Linked DNA regions of Homo sapiens: regions 2, 3 and 4 are each linked to region 1. The links come from fine-mapping of genetic effects on gene expression. A gene starts in region 1. Each other region holds a variant in brackets. All regions are shown on one strand. Distances are from middle to middle.

The links. PIP is the estimated chance that this variant, and not a neighbour inherited with it, causes the effect.
Region 2: its variant is the best candidate, but not a certain one, in a credible set for the expression of ANKRD28 in whole blood (TOPMed, PIP 0.83).
Region 3: its variant is the best candidate, but not a certain one, in a credible set for the expression of ANKRD28 in whole blood (INTERVAL, PIP 0.77).
Region 4: its variant is the best candidate, but not a certain one, in a credible set for the expression of ANKRD28 in whole blood (TOPMed, PIP 0.57).

Annotation. Positions count from the first base shown.
Region 1 is chr3:15,795,144-15,800,299 of GRCh38, reverse strand. ANKRD28 (ankyrin repeat domain 28) reads left to right here and starts at 2,321. Exons shown (of 28, transcript NM_001349278.2): 1 at 2,321-3,895; 2 at 4,994-5,077. The coding sequence starts at 3,779.
Region 2 is chr3:15,829,461-15,834,616 of GRCh38, reverse strand. It overlaps a transcript of ANKRD28 not described here. Among named protein-coding and RNA genes, the nearest start is that of ANKRD28, 34 kb to the right of the region's middle. The variant G/A (reference allele first, on the strand shown) is at 3,072.
Region 3 is chr3:15,610,506-15,615,661 of GRCh38, reverse strand. The region is part of intron 1 of BTD (biotinidase); the gene reads right to left. Among named protein-coding and RNA genes, the nearest start is that of BTD, 11 kb to the right of the region's middle. The variant GA/A (reference allele first, on the strand shown) is at 2,149.
Region 4 is chr3:15,938,252-15,943,407 of GRCh38, reverse strand. It overlaps LOC107986064 (a long non-coding RNA gene), which reads right to left. Exons shown (of 10, transcript XR_007095831.1): 3 at 3,810-3,898; 4 at 504-782. Among named protein-coding and RNA genes, the nearest start is that of MIR563, 67 kb to the right of the region's middle. The variant T/C (reference allele first, on the strand shown) is at 2,969.

The sequences.
Region 1 (5,156 bases):
ACTTCAGGCAATTTGACCACAAAATAGCCTACATTCTCAAGCACTGTACTGTTACTCTATTTCTCTTAGACAAAAATCTTTGCAGGTTATTTTTTTCTTATATAAGTGTCAAGAAATTTAGGCTTAGGGAATTTAAGTGGTTTGTCCAAGGACACAGCTAGGAAATGATGGAAGCAGAATTGAACTTCAGGTGGGCTGACTCCTGAGCCCTTAGTTTTAACCATCACCCCATACCTTTGTTTTATATCCTGTCAACTTCTGAAATTTTAATTGTTCACTTATTAGAGATATGAAACTCACTTTGTTGCACCTTAATGCCACCTATATTTTCTGGTTAAAATATATGTATACCAACACACCCCCACTATTCTTGTTTATAAATCTCCACCCTTCCAGAGTCTCGTGACGACAGAATTCATTTCAATGAAATTATTTATAGGTGGAAGAAAGTGGAAGGAGACAATATGTATGAACACAGTCCCTACCTTCAAGGAGTTTGTTTTCTGGTTGGGAAAGACCTAAGTGTGGAGGTTGACTTAGAACAAGAAACAGGATGTACCTGCTTAAGTCTAAGTAGGTGAACTTAGGTACTAGATACTTTGGAACAAGTTAAGATTGTTAAGATAAAAAGAGATTTTGCTTTGTGGGCTTGGGAACCCTGAAGATGAAATATAGGATATTGTTACTATAGTTGTTTCACTTTCAGATATTTCAAATATTAAGATTTTTTGATTCAGCTATGTGGAGATGGATAACATAATTGATGTATGTTCAATATTTACATACCTTTAATTTGGCATAAAAGTATTTTATATATTTTAAAATATAACTAATGAATTGTTAGCATGTTTTAATTGGTACAAATATGTTAGAGTTATTGCTTCTTCCATAGATTGATACATTTTATAGCTTTCAATGGTTCTTGTTTTAAATTCTGACATTCTTATATTTGTATCATGCTGGGATTTTTTGTTTTTTTTTTCCTTTTTATGGTTTTAAGACTTGCTTTGAAGTACCCATTTAAAAATAACTCGTTTTAGAATATAGCAATAAATAGTATATTCCTTTGTTACCTAAACTTTTCACAACCTTTATAGGTTACCTGTTTGTTAAGATCACTTTTATAAGCTAGTATTACAGGTTGCAAAGATCTGGAGATGAGTGGAGAGAAGAGAGTGTGTCTGTATGTGTGTGTACTCAGTGATAGCAGAATAGATTAGAAAGAGTATGTGTTTAAAATAACACACAACTTTATTAATTTATACAACTTTGGGTAAAATACATCATTTCTGAGTCTGTTTTTCCCTCTATAATGGGAATACAGCAAGGTTATTGTATTAAATGAGAATGTACAGCACATAGCATATCACAGATGTTCAAAAGTAACTATTATGTTTATTATTGTTTATTAATAAAAATGCTAGTTAATATGAAGAACACAGATTGAAGGGGGACCATGGTATTTTCTTTGTAAGTTTTCTCTTGAGAAATATCCCCCATGTTGGGTAAACAGAGAAAGAAGAAAAAAAACGATGAAATGATTGGCTTTGACATTTATTTATGGCTTTGGGAAATTTATAGGGAGGGAGATTATTTGTATTACCCTGTGCCCTTTTGACATAGGTAATTCAGGACGAAGGACATTTTTTTTTTCATGTACCTCTTTAACAGATTTTTAAGGCTTTATTCCCTATCCAAATGGGAAGGTAGGATTATTTTATTTCTTCAGTGAAAAATCAAATGATTTATATAATTTTAGAGTTAGGATTTCTACATTATGAAATTTTTGCTTTTCCCTTTAAAATATGAATCAATGATTGATTAAATTCACCAATTTAGAAATTGTTAGACAATCTTAAATTTCATTTGTTTAAGCTTTGCATTCTAGAAAATAAAATACACCTGGCAGATTAAAACTGATCTTGGTAAAAATATGAATAAAACAATTTCATGGTTTTTATAATCTAATAAAATATTTCTCCATCTTTAAACCTTTTTTATGAGTCCATTGCAGGCATATTCTTACTGCAACTGTCATTATAGGGTTAAACATTTGCTTTATTGTAACACACGAAAGCAGTTAAGCCGTTTGGAATTGTTTACTTGCTAAAACCACTGTTAGTCAGCAGAGGCAGTACACCAGATTTCCTTGTGGCTTTTAGTGGAAAATGTTAAAAGCGCACTCATTTTTCAGTTATAGAATTTTTTAGTTTGATTTGGATTAGTCACAGAACTGGCATGAACCTTCTAATTGTGAAGGCTGTCCAAATGCACTATTTTTTTCTCCTGCTAGAGGAAGTTACATCCCGAGAAGTAGCTCAGATCTCTGGTAAGTGTAACATGTGAGCATTACTAGGCATTTCATCCTGTGGGTCTGCAGTCTTTGCTCTTCAGACTGTTGCTCCGTTGGAATGCTTCTGTGGGACTGATACTGAGGTTCTATAGATATTTTTTAAGGACCTACTCATTTGGGGATGTCAGTGGTGTTTTGCAAGATCATCTGAGGAACAGGAAAGCATTTGAAATCTGAAAAGGATAACTGTGGCGGTTTTCACAGTGGAAGGAAACTATATTGGCAAAGAGGCAGATGACTGAATAAAGTAGTTGGCTCAAAGAAGATGCACAGTCTGCTATTTTTTTCTCTGAATGAAGACTGTTTAATGGAAGCTGTATTCATGTGGAGATCAAAGGAAACACTGGAATGATACACTACTATGTTTTTCCCCCCCCTTTTTTTTTTTAAAGAAAACAAAAAGCCTGAAGCAGTAATTTGAGCTCAAATGCCTTCTAATTCCTTCACAGCCTGCTTGTTCTACTAGGATTCTCCACTAACACCATTTCTGCCTGGTGCCTGTGCCCTTTTGCTGGAGCAGCCACAGACAACTGCCTGATGGAGAAAGAATGAACGCTCTGCCTTGCTTATGCTATCGATGGGAATAAAGCTAACTGTGTTTCTTCTATTATATGGGAAACCTGGATTAATCAAGCTGTATTCTAGTACCAAGAGTCGTATTGTCTCTTGTGGTCTGACTCATCACATGTAAACGTACTGCAGCTTTGCTATTAATGCAGAGTGGTTTTTTTTTTTTTGTTTTTGTTTTTTGCCCCTTTCCCAAACACTGAAAGAATTGTTAACCTCTGAGCTTCATTTTCAGGATTTGTGCTGAGCTCTAGATCTTTTTTCTGTGAATAGTATCTGCATTAAACCAGTGATGAAGAAATGAAGACAAATTAGAAGTGGAAACAGAATAGTGAGATTTTATTTTTTATTTTCAATTATAAGCAAAACAGCTACTGGTAACTATATGACCTTGCAGGCAAGAGTGGGTATCGCTGTGATCATCTCTGTCACAGCAGTTGTTTCTCATTTCATTCTATATTGTGTGGTGTTGTGTCACCAAAAACAATGATTGTTTTGTGCAAGTAAATTTCAGAGATAGAGCAATAAGACTATTTTGGTAGAGGAAAAATATTTTTAAATGAGCTTGGACTCAGTTTTAGTTATTGACATGTTGGTGTGAAATTTCTTCTTAAGTATTGCAGTAATCCAACAGAAATAATAGAATTTCGTTATATTTAGGAAGTTACAAATTATGTAGTCATAATTTTAAACTTGTTTTTCCAGTAGTACTTATTAACTTTAAAAAAAAAAAAAACCCAGCTGTGCTGTTCAGAGAATGTTTGTAAGTGTTGTACAGAAGAGGAGGAAAAACTACTTGTGCTCTTCCAACTGTGACTTTTATCACATAGCTTGGAATTTAGTGTTTTAAAAGATCGAATGAGTCGAGTGTGTATTGTTGTTTTGGAGGAGGTAGAAGATGAATCTCCTGCATTCATTTCTAAATTGCCACAGGAAAATAAATCCCTACATTCTCCACCTTCTGGAAATGTATTGGTAAGATATGTAAGTTTATATGTTTACTATATTCTACTGAACTAGTAGTATAAATCTTGTTTTTTAAGAATAGATGTAAATTTCCAATAGTTTCTTTACAAACCCAAATTAAAGCAATACGTGTGTAGATATGATGCAGTATTTTTGTATAAAATGCACATTTTTCGTTTTTACTTTTTTGAATGCTGAGATAACATTTCAGTCTTTACTATGTCTTAATCTCTTTAAAAGACTGTTTAAAAATAATTTGAGAATTAGTAGTTATGGCAACCACGTTTCTGTTTTCATTTTGTGGTTTCAGAAACTGATGTAACAAGAATCAGGAACTCTGCATATTTTAGGAAAGGTTGACTACCCCCAGCAACACTAAGGCATGGCCTTTTCTGTAATGAATTTTATGTATTTACATATAAGACTTTATATGAGATTCAGTCTTCATCTTTAACCTTGGTTTTAGTGCTACTGTCAGCTGGCTCCTTGACTAGTATAGTATACCTTATCAAGAGGCTGTATCGTTGATTAAGAAATTATTATATTTAGTTATGCATGTGTTTGTCTTTTCAAGTTATTTAAGTATCCAGTATTTTTTGGTCTTTGATTAGTGGCTATTTTCATCAACTGCCAGGTTTGCTTTCTTGGGATTTGTATCTTTATACATGTAATGCTAATCCATGTAAGATAATTTGATGCCCCAAACAGACCTTTTCAAAAAAGCCTTCCTTCATGGGCTGGAAATTGCTTAAAAAGTTCTGTCCCACAAGTAGATGTTGAGATCACACATTTGTATTTGGAAGAGTCTTTCTTTTTGTCATATACAGAAACAAAAGGCTTCTACTTACAAGAAATAAAATCTGATTTTGTTTATTATACTACCTAAATTGGGTCAAACTGAATTGATTTTTTTTTTTAATTAGGCCTTTTTTTTCCAAGTAGGAATCCTGTACTTTGACATGATTTGGTTTTATGAAACTTCTGGCTAATGTCAAAAGTGATTATTGCTACAGGGAAGAAAACTTGTAGATTCCAGAACTATGTAAAATATCCTTAGTCACCCCACATGGATGATTCTAATGTTTTTATTACTCTCTTCTATTTTAGCCATCACTGGTGCAAGCTATATTTAACGGAGATCCTGATGAAGTTCGAGCACTAATATTTAAGAAAGAAGATGTTAACTTTCAGGTAAAACAGTTAATTCACTGATGCCAGCCTTTAAAACTGCTTTTTAAAATTCTTTCCTAGAATTGTGATTTTTGTTTAC
Region 2 (5,156 bases), 34 kb before region 1:
TGTAAACAATCCTTATGATGATTAGCTTTTCAGTGGATTTTTTCCCCTTTGATTGACTTCTTCAGGAGCTCTTTTTATTCTTGTTAATAAAATCATTAAACTCTCCCATGTTCAAGAGCACGTGGAGGCATCACATTATCTGACTTCAAAATATACTGCAAGACTATAGTAACCAACACAACATGGTACTGGCATAAAAATAGATATATATATTACTGGAACAAAATAGGGAACCCAGAAATAAAGCCACATACCTACAACCAGCTAATCATCAACAAGAATATACACTGGGGAAAGGACACTCGATTCAGTAAATGGGTCTGGGAAAATTGGATAGCTATATGTAGAAGAATGAAACTGGACCCATGCCTCTCACCATATACAAAGATTAACTCAAGATGGATTAAAGAGCTAAACATAAGACCTGAAACTATAAAAATACTGAAGAAAACCTGAGAAAAATTCTGGACATTGGTCTAGGCAAATAATTTATAACCAAGTCCTCAAAAACAAAAATACACAAATGAGACAATTTTAAAAAAGCTTTCACACAGTAAAAGAAACAGTGAACAGAGTAAACATACAACCTACAGAAAGGGGAAAAAATATGTGCAAAATGTGAAAACTGCATCTGACAAAAGGCTAATATCCAGAATCTACAAGGAACTTAAGAAAAAAACAAACATTAAAAAATGGGCAAATAACACAAACAGACATTTTCCAAAAGAAGACATACAAGTGGCCAAAAAACATGAAAAAATCCTCAACATCATTAGTCATAAAAGAAATACAAATTAATCCACTTATGCCTAGTGTTCCATTATTGGAACACTAAGCATGTGGGAGTTATTTATATCCTACTGCTCAAGGTCATTGCCAAGTTCTGATTTTTCACTCATAATTGCAGCTTCCAGCATAAATGGGTTAAAACCATCTTATATGAGTCAGAATGGTTAGTTACTATTAAAAGGTCAAAAAAACAACAGATGTTGCCAAGGGTGCTGTATTAGGGTTCTCTAGAGGGACAGAACTAATAGGAGATATATATATACACACACACATTATATATATAAAAAATAATGTATATATTTTATATATATATAGTACATAATATGTAGTATATTTTTATATATTATATATATATGAAGGGGAGTTTAAGTATTAACTCACATGATCACAAGGTCCCACAGTAGGGCATCTGCCAGCTGAGGAGCAAGGATAGCCAGTCCGAGCCCCAAAACTGAATAACTTGGAGTCCAATGCTTGAGGGCAGGAAGTATCCAGCACAGGAGAAAGATGTAGGATGGGAGGCTACACCAGTCTAGTCTTTTCACGTTTTTCTGCCTACTTCATATTCCAGCTGTGCTGACAGCTGATTAGATGGTGCCTACTCAGATTAAGGGTAGATCCGCCTTTCCCAGCCCACTGACTTAAATGTTAATCTCCTTTGGCAGCACCCTCACAGACACACCCTGGATCAATACTTTGCATCCTTCAATCCAATCAAGTTGACACTCAGTTTTAACCATCACAGGTGTGAAGAAAAGGGAATGCTTATACACTATACACTATTGGTGGGAATGTAAGTTAGTAAAATCCTTATGGAAAATAGTATGGAGATTTCTCAAAGAACTAAAAATAGTGATACCATTTGATTCTGCAGTCCCACTACTGTGAATATACCCTAAGGGAAAGAAATCATGTCAAAAAGGTATCTACACTGGTATGTTTATTGCAGCGCTATTCACCGTAGCATATACGTGGAATCAGCCTAAATATCCATCAACAGAAGATTGGATAAAGAAAATGTGGTGTATATGTATAAAGAATGAAATCATGTCTTTTGCAGCAAACATGGATGGAATTGGAGCCCATTATCCTCCGTGAAATAACTTGGAAACATAGTCAAATACTGCATGTTCTCACTTCTAAATGGGAGCTAAACAAGGGTATATGGGACATACCAAGGGGATAACAGATATTAGAAACTACAAAAGGTGGGAGGTGGGCAAGGGTTGAAAAATCACCTGTTGGATACAGTGTTCACTATTTAGGTGATCTCTACACTAAAAGCGCACTTCATCACAATGCAGTAAGTGCATGTAAGAAATCTGCAGTGTATCCCCTAAATTTATTTTTAAAATTTAGCATAATGTTTTCATTGAACTGATGGAAATTAGAATTGAAACTGGGAGGGAATTTACCTAATCTTGAGCTTAAAGATTCCCAAAGAGTAGGGAGAGACACTTTTGCTCAGCACCCCTACACATAAGGAATTTTAAATGTAGGTATGTAATTATGTCACAGGCTTTCTAAATAATAAAATGCAAAATAATATTTTCACTTACCACATTTAACTTTGAATGTATTTCTGCAGATATTGCTGAGAATGCAGAGAAATTTCTTCCTTTATTCTATTTATTTCCCTGTAGCACTATCTGAAGTGATCTTATTTGTCTATATGTTTATGAAATGTCTCACTCTACTGGAATGTGAGTTCTTCAAGGGCAAATACGATGTCTTTTATTTACTGCTGTGTCTCCAGCACCTGTAACAATGCTTTGGCATATAGTGGACACTCAATTGCTGGATAAATAATGAATTCTGATTAAGTGTGTCTGAGATAGGACCCTGGCACCTATATTTTTAAAAACTACTGGGGGTTATTTTGATGTATACTCCCAAGGTTGAAGAAAACTAGTCTATCTTCCCTCTGTGGTGTGCATAAGATACAGAAAATATATATGTATCCTTATTTAAAGATCATTGTTAGAGGCTTCTCCTTCTCTTGAAATTGGTAATCTGACTGAGTTCCCCAGAAGGAAGAGTTTTTAGTTCACCACTTCTATCCAGATATTTTTTGAAGGTAGAACTCAGAATGTGCAATTGCTTTCCATCATCAAATAATTAACATTAGGAAAGGCAGGAAGGTAGAGCTAAAAGTGAATTTATTCCCTTTTTTTGTAAAAGATAAGGCAAGGTCAGACTACCTAGGTGAGTTTCCTGAAACAGTGATTTTCAATATTGAGGGGAGAGCGATTTTTCTCCTCAGGGGAATTTGACAGTGTCTG[G/A]AGACATTTTTTGTTGTTACCACTGGGAAGGAGGGAAGGATACTATTGGCACCTATTGGACAGAGGCCAGGGATGCTGCTAAACATCCTACTGTGGACAGGACGTTCCTCTATAACAAAGAATCATTTGGTGAGAATCCCTGCTCTAAAACAAGCTGCTTGGAGAAGGGGCTGGTAGTTATGTGGAGTTTGGCAGTGCAATTTGGATCTGTGCACATATGCACAATAGTTTTTGGTCTTGGGCAAAACAGTGTCTTGTGTAGAGAAACATGTAGGTGGGGATTGGCTTTTGTTATATATACTCAGGAGTTTGATCTTGACCAGCTTGTTTAGTTTGTGGGAGATTGTGCACTCTCAGATTTGATAATTTGCTTAGAAAGACTCACAGAACTCAGCAAAGCAGTTAAATTAATGGTATGGTTTATTACATCAAAAGAATACGGATTAAAACCAACAGTGGGTAAAGGTGCATAGGACAGAGGTCCAGGAGAGTTTCAGGCGTGAACTTCCAGATGTCCTCTCCTAATGGGGTTGTGCAGACAGTGCTTACTTTTCCCAGCAACAATATATGGTGACACGCAAGGAGTATTGCCAACCAAGGCCACCCACGTGAGGTTTGCTGTCCAGAGTTTTTATTGAGAAGTCAGTCACATAGGTATGGTTGACCACACCTGTGGCTGATGTTAGTCTCCATCCCCTCCAGAGGTCAAGCTGATACTCCGTGACTTAAAGGTCCCACCAAGAATCATATTGTTAGACTATCTGTCATGGACCAAAGCCCCCAGGTAAACAACGACTCTTTATCAAGCAGGACATTCCAAGGGGTTAGCAGTTACCTCCTAGGAGCTGAGCAAGGGCCAAACCTTTCTTTGGCCAAAATTAATCCATTACTGCAGCAGTCCCCAGTGTTTTTGGCACCAGGGACCAGTTTCGTGGAAGACAATTTTTCCGTGGATGGGGGTGCGGTGGGGGGTGGGATGGTTTTGAGATGAAACTGTTCCACCTCAGATCATCAGGCATTAGTTAGAGTGTTGTAAAAAGCACATAACCTAGATCCCTCAGATGTGCAATTCAAAATAGGATTGGCAGTCCTATGAGAATCTAATGCTGCGCTACTCTGACAGGAGTCAGAGTTGAGGTGGTAATGCTTGCTTGCCCGCTGCTCACCTCCTGCTATCCAGCCCAGTTTCTGACAGGCCATGAATGGCTAGCAGTCCTCAGTCCAGGGGTTAGGGACCCTGGTCTAAGAGACTTCTCATAGTGTGGTCCATGAACCCCTGGGAGTCCCTAAAGTCAAAACTGTTATCATAATAATAAAATGTTATATGCGTTTTTTACTTCGACATTCGCATTAATGGTACAAAAGTAATAGTACTTACTGCTGATGTATTAGGAATCAAGTTAGTGGCACCAGACTGTGTTTTTCACTGCCTTGCTTACAGTTAAGGGGAGGGAAAAGCCTATTTCCCTTAAGATTGTTTTTAAGTATAAATTACTTACATTACACTTCACCCTGGGGTGTCTGTATGATAAAATGAGTATATGCTGCACAGGAAAAATGCTTATGTGATTGAGTTGCTAGCTGGACTAGACTTTTTTTTTTTTTTAATAGAATACCTTTTTACTTGAAAAAACAACTAACATTATGGTTATTCAGATTTGGCTCTTTGGCAAACCTTTTATTGAAAATATTCCTTGAAAAGGAACAAAGTGAACTTGTCACTTCAAGGAAAGCCACTGTCAATATTTGTTACAGATGATGAAATTTGAGCTTCCAAGCAAAATTAGAATTTGAGTAAATCTGTATCGGCCACCTTGAGCTTGCTACCTTTACAGAGCTTAAAGATGTTTTGTGGTGGCTTTGGTAGTAATATTAATAAATATGACTTTTGATATTGTATATCATGAAACGTGTCAGTAATTGAAGACCTTCGTAAACCAGTGAACCAGCATTTTCCAAATTACTGATATATGATATTGTAAAATGACACATGGGTTAAAAAAGATCCATTCAAAGTTCAGTTAGACCAATGGATTTTAATGTGAAAAAAGTACTAAAAGCTCATTCATATGGCTTCATAATTCA
Region 3 (5,156 bases), 180 kb after region 1:
GTAAACTTTCTGTACTTTCTGCTCAATTTTATTGTGAGCATAAAACTTCTCTTTTAAAAAAAGCATTTAAAAAATAAAAACTAAAATCAAGTAACTGAAAACTGGAGTGGTGAGGTGATACTGGAACATGTCCCAATCTTGATATCCAAGGGGTTTAGATTTTAAAGACCATGAAGGACAGAAAGACAAGATGTGGAGGTTGGAGTGAGATCTGTGCATATAGCTAGGAACCTTAAGGAATGATTCCTTTATTGAAAGGATGGACAAAAACAAATATCTGCCTGCCTGCCAAAGTAACTATCTGACGTAGAAACTTGTACATCTCATCTTGGGCTCTGAGCAGGGGAAAATAGTACTCCTTGAAAGTCATAACCAACATAATCAAAGGTTTTCCTTATGTGGGTTCATGATTCAAAAACTCACAACATACATGACCCAGGTAACTCTATGCCAAGAAATGAGCACAAAGTGATTTTGAGATGTTATCAGTCCTAAGATGCCTGGAAAAGCCTATCCACATACTCTCTTCTTGAAGACTGAGTGTCCTGGGTTGAAGAACAAGGTAAACAAGAGCTCAAAATTCAAAATTACAAAACACACAAGGAAGCAAATATTATGCAAGAAAGTTAAAGAATACAGCAAAATCAGGCCCCCAACAACTTCAGATGGAAGGATTACTAGTGAAAATTTTCAAATAAGTACACTGAAGTTGATTAAAGAAGTACTCAGAGGACTCTAAAACAGGTAAAAGAATAAGATATTGTTGGCTGGGAGTGGTGGCTCATGCCTGTAATCCCAGCACTTTGGAAGGCCAAGGCAGGAAGATAACTTGAGCCCAGGAGTTGGAGGCCAGCATGGGCAACATGGCAAAACCCCATCTCTACAAAAAATACAAAAATTAGCTGTGTGTGGTGGTGCATGCCTGTAGTCCCAGCTACTTGGGTGGCTAAGGTAGGGCGATTGCTTGAGCTCAGAGGCGGAGGTGGCAGTGAGCTAAGATCACACCACTACACTCTAGCCTGGGTAATAGAGAGAGACTCTGTGTCAAAAAAAAAAAAAAAAAGAAAAAGATATTGTCAAATAAAACCAAATGGAGACATTTTGTGGCATGGCCGTTAGAATCATTAAAAAATTTGTTTAGAATGTACCACAGAGATGACAAAAGGGAAAAAAAGAAGATGAGACATGGAAGACATATATGATGTTCCATGATATTTCTAATTGGAATTTCAGAAGGAGAAAATAGAGGCTGGGTGCAATGGCTCATGCCTGTAATCCCAACACTTTGGAGGTCAAGATGAGAGGATCACTTGAGGCCAGGAATTCAAGACCAGCCTGGGCAATATAATCTCTACAAAAAGTAAAAAAGTATTAGCTGGGCATGGTGGTGTACACCTGCGGTCCCAGCATCTCAAGAGGCTGAGGTGGTAGGATTGCTTGAGCCCAGGAGTTTAAGGCTGCAGTGGGCTACGGCTGTGCCACTGTACTCCAGCTTGGGCGACAGAGCAAGACCTTGACTTAAAAAAAAAAAAAAAAGAAAGAAAGAAAGAGGGAGAAAATACATAAAATGACACATGACACATTACACATGTTTGAAGGTATAATAGGTGAGAATTTTAATAATAAAATACAGAAATCCATAGATTCAAGACAACCAAAAAGAAATCTATACACAACATAAAGAAACCAGAACACGAAATATTTGAAGAAGAAAAAAATCTTAGACGCAACCAGAGGGAAGAGAGATTGCCTTCAAAGATATGGTGATTTGAAAACAGCAGACTTTTCAAGAGTAACAATAGAAGTAAGAAAACAAAATCTTAAATGTGCTAAGAAAAAATAACTGTGAACCAGAATGGCCTTGTTCACACATAAACCTCCTACAGTAGAGGAAAAACTCACTCAAAAATGAGTAAATAAAAAGCTCAAGATCTTTTGAAAGATACTATACGAAAACAAAGGTTATACCCCAGAAAATTGCCACAACACAAATAAAAACTGTGACAAAACATTCTGCCACGAGTGAAAAAAAACTGCTTATATTAAATAAAAGCACAAAATAGACCAAGAGAATTAAAAGATGAAAGGGAAAAAGGGGAGAAGGGGAGGAAAGGAGGAGAAGAGGAGAAGGTAAGGAGGGGGAAGAGG[GA/A]AGAAGAGAGAAGGGAGAAGGGAGTGGGGAATAGAAAGCTGGGAGACAGATGAAATATTATCTGGCAGGGCTCAGGAAAGAAGCAGAAGAAAAAATTAAAACATCAAGAAATTATGGCAAAGATAGAAGCAGCAAAAGAAATCAGATGATGCTGTAAATAAATAAGCAACATGAATGGAAATACAGAATTGAAAAGGAGTCCACAGAAAATGATAGACAGGGAGAACAGTGAACGAGATCCATCATATGCATAATTGGAAAATGCATAAAAGAAAAAAATAATGTGTGGTGGACACACCCTAAGGTGACTCCTTGTATAATCCTCTTTTCTTGAGTGCAGGTGGAAATTGTACTCTGTTACTAGCCAATAGAATATGACAAAGGTGAAGGGCTTTCACATATGTAGTTAAAATCCCAAGCCAGTTAATCTAGTTAATCAAAAGAGATTACCCTGGTGGGTCTGAATTAATCAGGTCTTTAAAAAAAGAACTGGGGTGCTCCAAGATTTCAGACACACTCTCTCCCCGGCTGACCTTGAAGAAGCAAGCCACCATGAATACTACAACTGCAAGGAAATTCATTCTTTCAACGATCAGTTGAATTTGGAAGAAAACTCAGCCTCAGATGAGACCATGAGGTCAGCTGACAACTTCACTGTAGCCTTGTGAGATGCTGACCAGAGGATCCAGTAAAACTATGCTCAGACTCCTGACACATAGAGACTTTGAGATAATAAATGGGTCTTGTTTTAAGCTGCTGAATAGGTCGTAGGGTAAATTTTTATACAACAATAGACAACATATAATGAAGCAAAAAAAAAAAAAATTAAAGATGTAATTGAAGAAAACTCACCAGAAATAAAAGCATATTTCAATTTATAGCTTGAAAAGAGATAGCAAAACTCAAGAAAGAAAGGAACAGAACATCAACATCGGCAGATAGCCTAGCAAAATTCTTGATCTTCAAAGATAAAGTAAGAATCATTTGGGAAGCTAAATAAAAAGATCAAGGGTATTTATTAGGGGCAAAATAATCAGGCTGTCCTCAGACTTTACTACAATAACATCAATGCCAGTAAAAGCCTATAGAATCCTTCCAGAAAATAAAATATAAGCCAGAAATTATATATTATGCCAACCTATGGTTGAAGTAAAGAAAAAAACCAGATAATAGGTATGAAAATATAAGAACTCAGGGACTATTATTCTCATCAGTCTCATCAGCCTTCTTTGAAAAAATGCATAGAGGGTAATCTTCGGCCAATTAAGAGGTGAATGGAAAAACTGGCAAGAGCCTTGAATGTAAAATAAACATGAGGATTATATTTATAGAACACAGTGCAAATGTTATTAACTCTGGCAATGTAGAAATTGTAAAACTAACAAAAGGTGGTAACAGTGAGGAAAAGAGTAATGGCATGCTCAAGAAAGCAAAAGGAAGGAAATAAAAATAAGAGTGGAAATTAAATTAGAAAACAGAAAAATGACAGAATGAATAAGTATGTCCAAGGAGTTGTTGTTTAGAGAAAAAAAAAGGTAAAGACAAATGATCGGCTAGCCTAATTAAGAAAAAAAAGAGAAACAAATATACAAAACAAAGAGAAATCTATAAATGCAGAAGAATTTTTTTTAAAAAAGAATAATCACCTCATTCAATCCTATATTGATAAGCTAGAAAATTTAGACGAGTAGTTTCCTAGAAAAAAAATACATTATTTGTTTTTTCTTTTTTTTTTTTGAGACTGTCTCACGCCATCACCCAGGTTGGAGTGCAGTGGTGCAATCTCAGCTCATTGCAACCTCTGCCTCCTGGATTCAAGCAATCCTTGTGCCTCAGCCTCCAGAGTAGCTGGGACTGAAAAATATATTTTTACCAAAACTTCGGATAAAAGAAAAAACTAAACCATGCCAACAATCATAGAAGAAATAGTTATCAAACAATCATTCCCTCCCATTCTCCACCCTCAAAACAGGCCCAAATAGTTTCTAGAAGAATTCTTTCTAACTATAAAGGAAAAAATAATCCTAATGCTACTCAATGTGTGTGAGAATATAGTAAAAGAAGGCATTTTTTTCTTATGAAGTGATAAAAATCTGATAATAAAACCTGACAAAGGCAAGAGTCATGTAGGACCCAGGATCCCTCTCTTTCTGGGCCTAACTTCTTGGCATGTAGCTTCCATTTTCAGAGTCATCTTGTGGTTCCAAAATGACTTCTACAACTCCAATTATCATGTTGTACAGAGGAAGAGTACAGAGGGTACTTGCCAGTTTCATCAGCTTTCCTAAAAGCCCTGCCCAGTGACTCCTATTTAAATTGCTTTGGCCCATGTGTGGACGCGTGACCACTCCTAGCTACAAGGAAGGCTGGGCAATGTAAACTGCATTATCACCTTGAATAAAATCAGGATTTTTCCAGGTAAAATACAGGTGGCCCAGTTAAATTTAACTTTCAGATAAATATGTTGGAACATACTTACGCTAAAAAAAATTATGCATTGTTCATCTAAAGTTCAAATTCAACTGGGAGTTTTGGAGTCCTGTTTTTTTTTTTTTTTCTAAATCTGACAACATTACCCATGAGGGATCAAGTAACCATGACCCTGACTTTTATACTCATCACTTCTTTGTTTTTTAAAATAGCTTTATCACCCAATGTGCATCCCTAGACACTGTAGTTTAGTCTTGTCCATTAAAAAATACCCTATCTTTTAAATCTCTTTTAATCTAAAGGTTCCTCTTCCATCCCCTCTAGTTGCTTAAAATTAATATAATAAACAAGATGGCTTCAAAAGAATGAAGTCCAGGGACTACTTGTCCTACCAACATCAAGACTTATTTTAAAAACACAGAAATTAAGATAGTGTGGGATTGGTGTTAGGATAGGAAAAGAACAGAGAGTACAGAAATACTCCCATAAATATGCGAGCTTGACATTCCACAGAGGGGAAATTATGTATCACTGGGATGAGAATGAACTATATTATGAATGGTGCTTGGACAACTGG
Region 4 (5,156 bases), 140 kb before region 1:
TATATTTTGGATATTAACCCTTTATCGAATGGGTTTCCAATTTTCTCCCACTCCATAGGTTGTCTCTTCACCCAATTGATTCTTTCTTTTGTTGTGCAGAAGTTTTTTAGTTTGATATAATCTAATTTGTCTATTTTCCCTTGTGTTGCCTATGAGGAAGAACTTTTAGTTAACATGCTATGGACTAGGCTTCAAGAGGCTGTTCACAGGAAAGCTGACAACCATGCCTAGAGTTGCTTTTGCCTCTACCTTTGCCCAGGATTTCATCATCTCTCACCTGGAATCTTGCTCCAGTTTCCTAACTGATCTCTCCTCCAGTCTCTCCCCAGCCTAGCGCGTCCTCACACTGATCTGAGTTATCACCACCCAAACCAATCTTACCTTTCATTCTCTTACTTAAAGACCATTTAACCCCTATTGGCAGGGTGAGTTCCCAAGGAGGCTGAATGAGACAAAGACTAGCAGGCAGGATGTTTATTAGGGAGGGCTGTTGGGATTAATACCTGTAGAAGAGAGAGAAGAAGGCAGGATTGGACACACAGGGAAGTTGAGCTCCAAAGTCATCACAACAAAGCTTTAGCTAACCTCCTGGGAAGCTCTGAAGTTGGGATGGCCCTTCAGAGTTCTTCTGAATTGGAGTGAAATGACAGAGTATACTTCTGTGTAGACCACTCATTGGTTGCCCCAGGAAGCTGGTATGAGCTTGGGATAGACAGCTGCATGCATAAAAAAGAGATTCCAGAAGAGAGTTGCAAGTAAGGGCCATCTGCCAGCAGCACTCCCTGCAGCCAGGAAAATATGCCATTCAGGACTGAAGGTCATTACATTTCCCTATACCAATAGAATACCACCCAACTCTTCTACATGACATGCAAGGCCCTTCACAATCTAGCTCCTGCCACATCTCCAACCCCACCTTTCTCTACTCCCTACTGCTTAACCCAAGTACATTAAGTTTCCCAGGGGTGTCTTGAAAATGCTGTCACTTTCACAATTTGTACATACTATTCCCTCCTAATAGGATGCCCTCACCTTCTGTATTAGTTTTTAATGGTTGCTGTAACAAATTACCACAAACTTGGTGGCTTAAAACAATGCACATTTATTCTTTTACAATTCCTGGAGGTCAGAGTCCAAAATCAGTTTTACTGAGCTGAAATCAAGGTGTCAGCAGGGCTGTGCTCCCTCCACAAGCTGAAGGGAAGAATCTGTTTTCTTGCCCTTTCCAGCTTCTAGAGCCACATTATTTGCATTCTTTGGCTCATGACTCCTTCTTCCATCTTTAAAGCCAGCAGCACAGCATCTTGCTCTAGTGTCACATCAACTTCTGCTTATGCTGCTGCTGCTAAATCTACCTTTGCCTCTCCCTTATAAGAATACTTATGATTCCATTTATGGTCCCGCTGAATAATACAGAATAATATTTCCATCTCAAGATACTTAGCTTAGTCACATCTGTTAAGTCTCTTTTGCCACATTGTATGGTTTGGCTGTGTCCCTGAGAGGTGAAGCCAGCTGGGCTTCTGGGTCAGGTGGGGACTTGGAGAACTTTTCTGTCTAGCTAGAGGATTGTAAATGCACCAATCAGCACTCTGTGTCTAGCTAAAGGATTGTAAATGCACCAATCAGCACTCTAAAAACACACCAATCAGCGCTCTGTGTCTAGCTAAAGGATTGTAAATCCACCAATCAGCACTCTGTAAAAATGCACCAATCAGCATTCTGTGTCTAGCTAAAGGATTGTAAATGCACCAATCAGCACTCTGTAAAAAGGCACCAATCAGCACTCTGTATCTAGCTAAAGGATTGTAAATGCACCAATCAGCACTCTGTAAAATGGACCAATCAGCACTCTGTAAAATGGACCAATCAGCAGGATGTGGGCGGGGCCAAATAAGGGACTAAAAGCTGGCCACCTGAGCCAGCAGCAGCAACCCACTGAGGTCCCCTTCCATGCCGTGGAAGCTTTGTTCTTTCGCTCTTCACAATAAATCTTGCTGCTCCTCACTCTTTGTGTCCGCACTACCTTTATGAGCTGTAACACTCACCACGAGGGTCTGCAGCTTCATTCCTGAAGTCAGCAAGACCATGAACCCATCGGGAGGAACAAGCAACTCTGGACATGCCACCTTTAAGAGCTGTAACACTCACTGTGAAGGTCTGCAGCTTCATTCCTGAAGTCAGCGAGACCACGAACCCACCAGAAGGAAGAAACTCCAGACACATCTGAACATCTGAAGGAACTCCAGACACACCATCTTTAAGAGCTGTAACACTCACCACGAAGGTCCACGGCTTCATTCTTGAAGTCAGCAAGACCAAGAACCCACCAGAAGGAATAAATTCCGGACACATCCCCACCCAAAATCTCATCTTGAATTGTAATAATCCCCACATGTCAAGGGCGGGACCAGGTGGACATAATTGAATCATGACAGCAGTTTCCCCCATACTGTTGTCATGATAGTGAGTGAGTTCTCATGAGATCTGATGGTTTTACAAGGGGCTTCCTCCTTTACTCAACTCTCATTTCACTCTCTTGCCACCATGTGAAGAAAGATGTATTTGCTTCCCCTTCCACCATGATTGTAAGGTTTCCTGAAGTCTCCCCAGCCTTGCAGAATTATGAGTCAGTTAAACCTCTTTTCTTTATAAGTTACTCAGTCTTGGGTATGTCCTTATAGCAGCCTGAGAATGGACTAATACATCCTATAACCCCAGGCTCCAGGGATTAGGACTTGATCTCTTTGGGGACCATTATTCACCTACCCCATCTACCTTGGCCCACTTACATTTAAGTCTCAGCTCAATTGTCACCTCTTGTGTGAAACTTTTCCTGACACTCCAAGGTGGGTAGAACTGACAGCCATTTTTTTCCCCAGAACTTTATCCATATCTTTATTTATTAGTTTCCATGTTATGCTGTACTTCATTTATAAGACATGGATTCATTCATTCATTGAGAAAT[T/C]TCTATGCGCCCAGGCATTGTTGTTAATTCTTAGGGTTAGAGAAGTGAACAAATTGGACAAAAGCCCTGCCCTTGTCTGACTTCTATTCTAATGAAGGGAGATACACAATTTTTAAGAGAAAAGAAAAACAAATAGTGTGTTAAAAAGAAACAAGTGCTGAGGGAAAAATAGTAGATCATGGTATAAGAGATTAGGCATGCAGCAGGGGAAGACGCAGGTAGGTGCAACTTAAAACAGGTGGTCAAGGAAGGTCTCATTGGGATGGTGACACTGAATAAAGTCGTAAAGGAGATTAAGATGGATATCTGGCAGAAGAGCCTTCTGGGTAGAGAGAACTGCCAGTGCAAAGGCTCTGAGGCCAGAACATGGCTTAGGTATTCAAGGAACAGATAGGGGAGCTCCTAGAGTTTTGAGCAAAGGAGTGACACAAACTTTTATCAGGATTCTTTTACCAGTGCTGTCCCAAGACTTGGGCCTGGACAAGATTGGTAAAGATGACAGGTGTTAAATGTAGGTGGGTGAGAGAATCCTATCAGCAGGTGAGGGAATCCAGGAGGAAATTGTTTCAGGTGGGGAGGAGAGAAAGTAATGAATCTAGTTTTAAAAATGTAGAACTGGAGATGAAGGTGGAACATCCTAGTGGAGAGGCTCAGATGAGGGTTGACAGAATTTTAGATTTGAAAGATCATCTGGTCTATCCCTTCATTCAAGAAATATGAGCCTGCAGTGGTGGCCTCTCATTCTTACCCCATTCTCCACCTGCCACCAAGTTTCTGCATCTTGCCATCCCTCCCCACTCCTAGGTTGCTTGCATGTCTTTTCTCCACTTCCAGGACTTACCTCCAAGTCCAACTCCTTTGGTAATGGTCTGTCTACGATTTTATCCTCTTCAGAATTCCTGTCCTTTATGATCTGATATTTGGCAATATCTAGGGAAAAGGTATTGTACAGAGAAAAGAATGCAAGTTTTGGAAGCAGACAGATAGGATTAAAATCCCAGCTCAGCCACTTCCTAGTGTGTGATCTTAGGAATTCATTCCTCCTCCCTGGGCCTTAGTTTCTTCATATTAAAATGTTTTTAAAGGATTGAAAATTATAAGTCTACTTCATAAACCTATGTGAGTATCCAAAGACAATGTTTACAAAGCACCTGGTATGTATTAGGCACTCAATGAATGCTGATTCCTCCTTCTCTGACTGCTTGCCCCTTGCCCACAGTTCCACTGTCTGCAGTGGGCATTTTTATTCTTTTCCCTTATTATATTTAGTGACTGTTTTATTTATAAATATATATTTGTGACATTTTATTCCAGGCCACAGCAGCCCAGGTTAGAATACAAGATTATGGGAAACCTTTTCTTGGTAATTATCTACTTGAATATACATAAAAATCACCTGTACAATTGTCCATGTCAATTTGTTAAAACTTATTTGAATATTTTCAAACATAGTCCACAGTAGAAGAGAATAATAGTACAATGTACCTCCAAGTACTTGTTACCCAGCTCCAATAACTGTCAACCTTAGCCAGTCTTGTTTTATCTATCTGCTATCCTCAATTTTTATTTCTGGAGTATTTTAAAGCAAAACTTTAGACATCATATTATTCCACTCATAAATAATTCAGTGGGTATCTCTAGTATATAAGGATTCATCTTAGTTTGCTAGTGCTTCCATAACAAATACCATAGCCTGGGTGGCTAAAACAATAGACAATATTTTCCTCTCATTTTTAGAGGCTAGAAGTCCAGATGAAGGTGCCGGCAGGGTTGGTTTCTCCTGAGGCCAGCCTCCTTGCCTTGCAGATGGCCACCTTTTCACTGTGTCCCCACATAGCCTTTTCTTTATGCTAGTGCCCTACCCCATGGCTCTTCTTCTTATAAGGACACTTAGGACCCCACCCTGCTCCCACTAGATTAGGTCCTCATTTAGCCCCTGTAACCTATTTAAAGGTCCTTCTTCTAATACAGTCAAAATGGGGGTTCAGGCTTCAATATATGAATTTTGGGGGAATATATTCAGTCCACAATAGGACTATAAAAATATATGACCACAACACCATCATCATGCCTATAATAATAATAACAACGGTTTAATACTCTCTAGCATTCTGTCCGTGTTCAAATTTTTCTGGTTGTTCCCCAAACATTTTGTTAATAGTTGGTTCGTTTACATTATAGCTCAAAA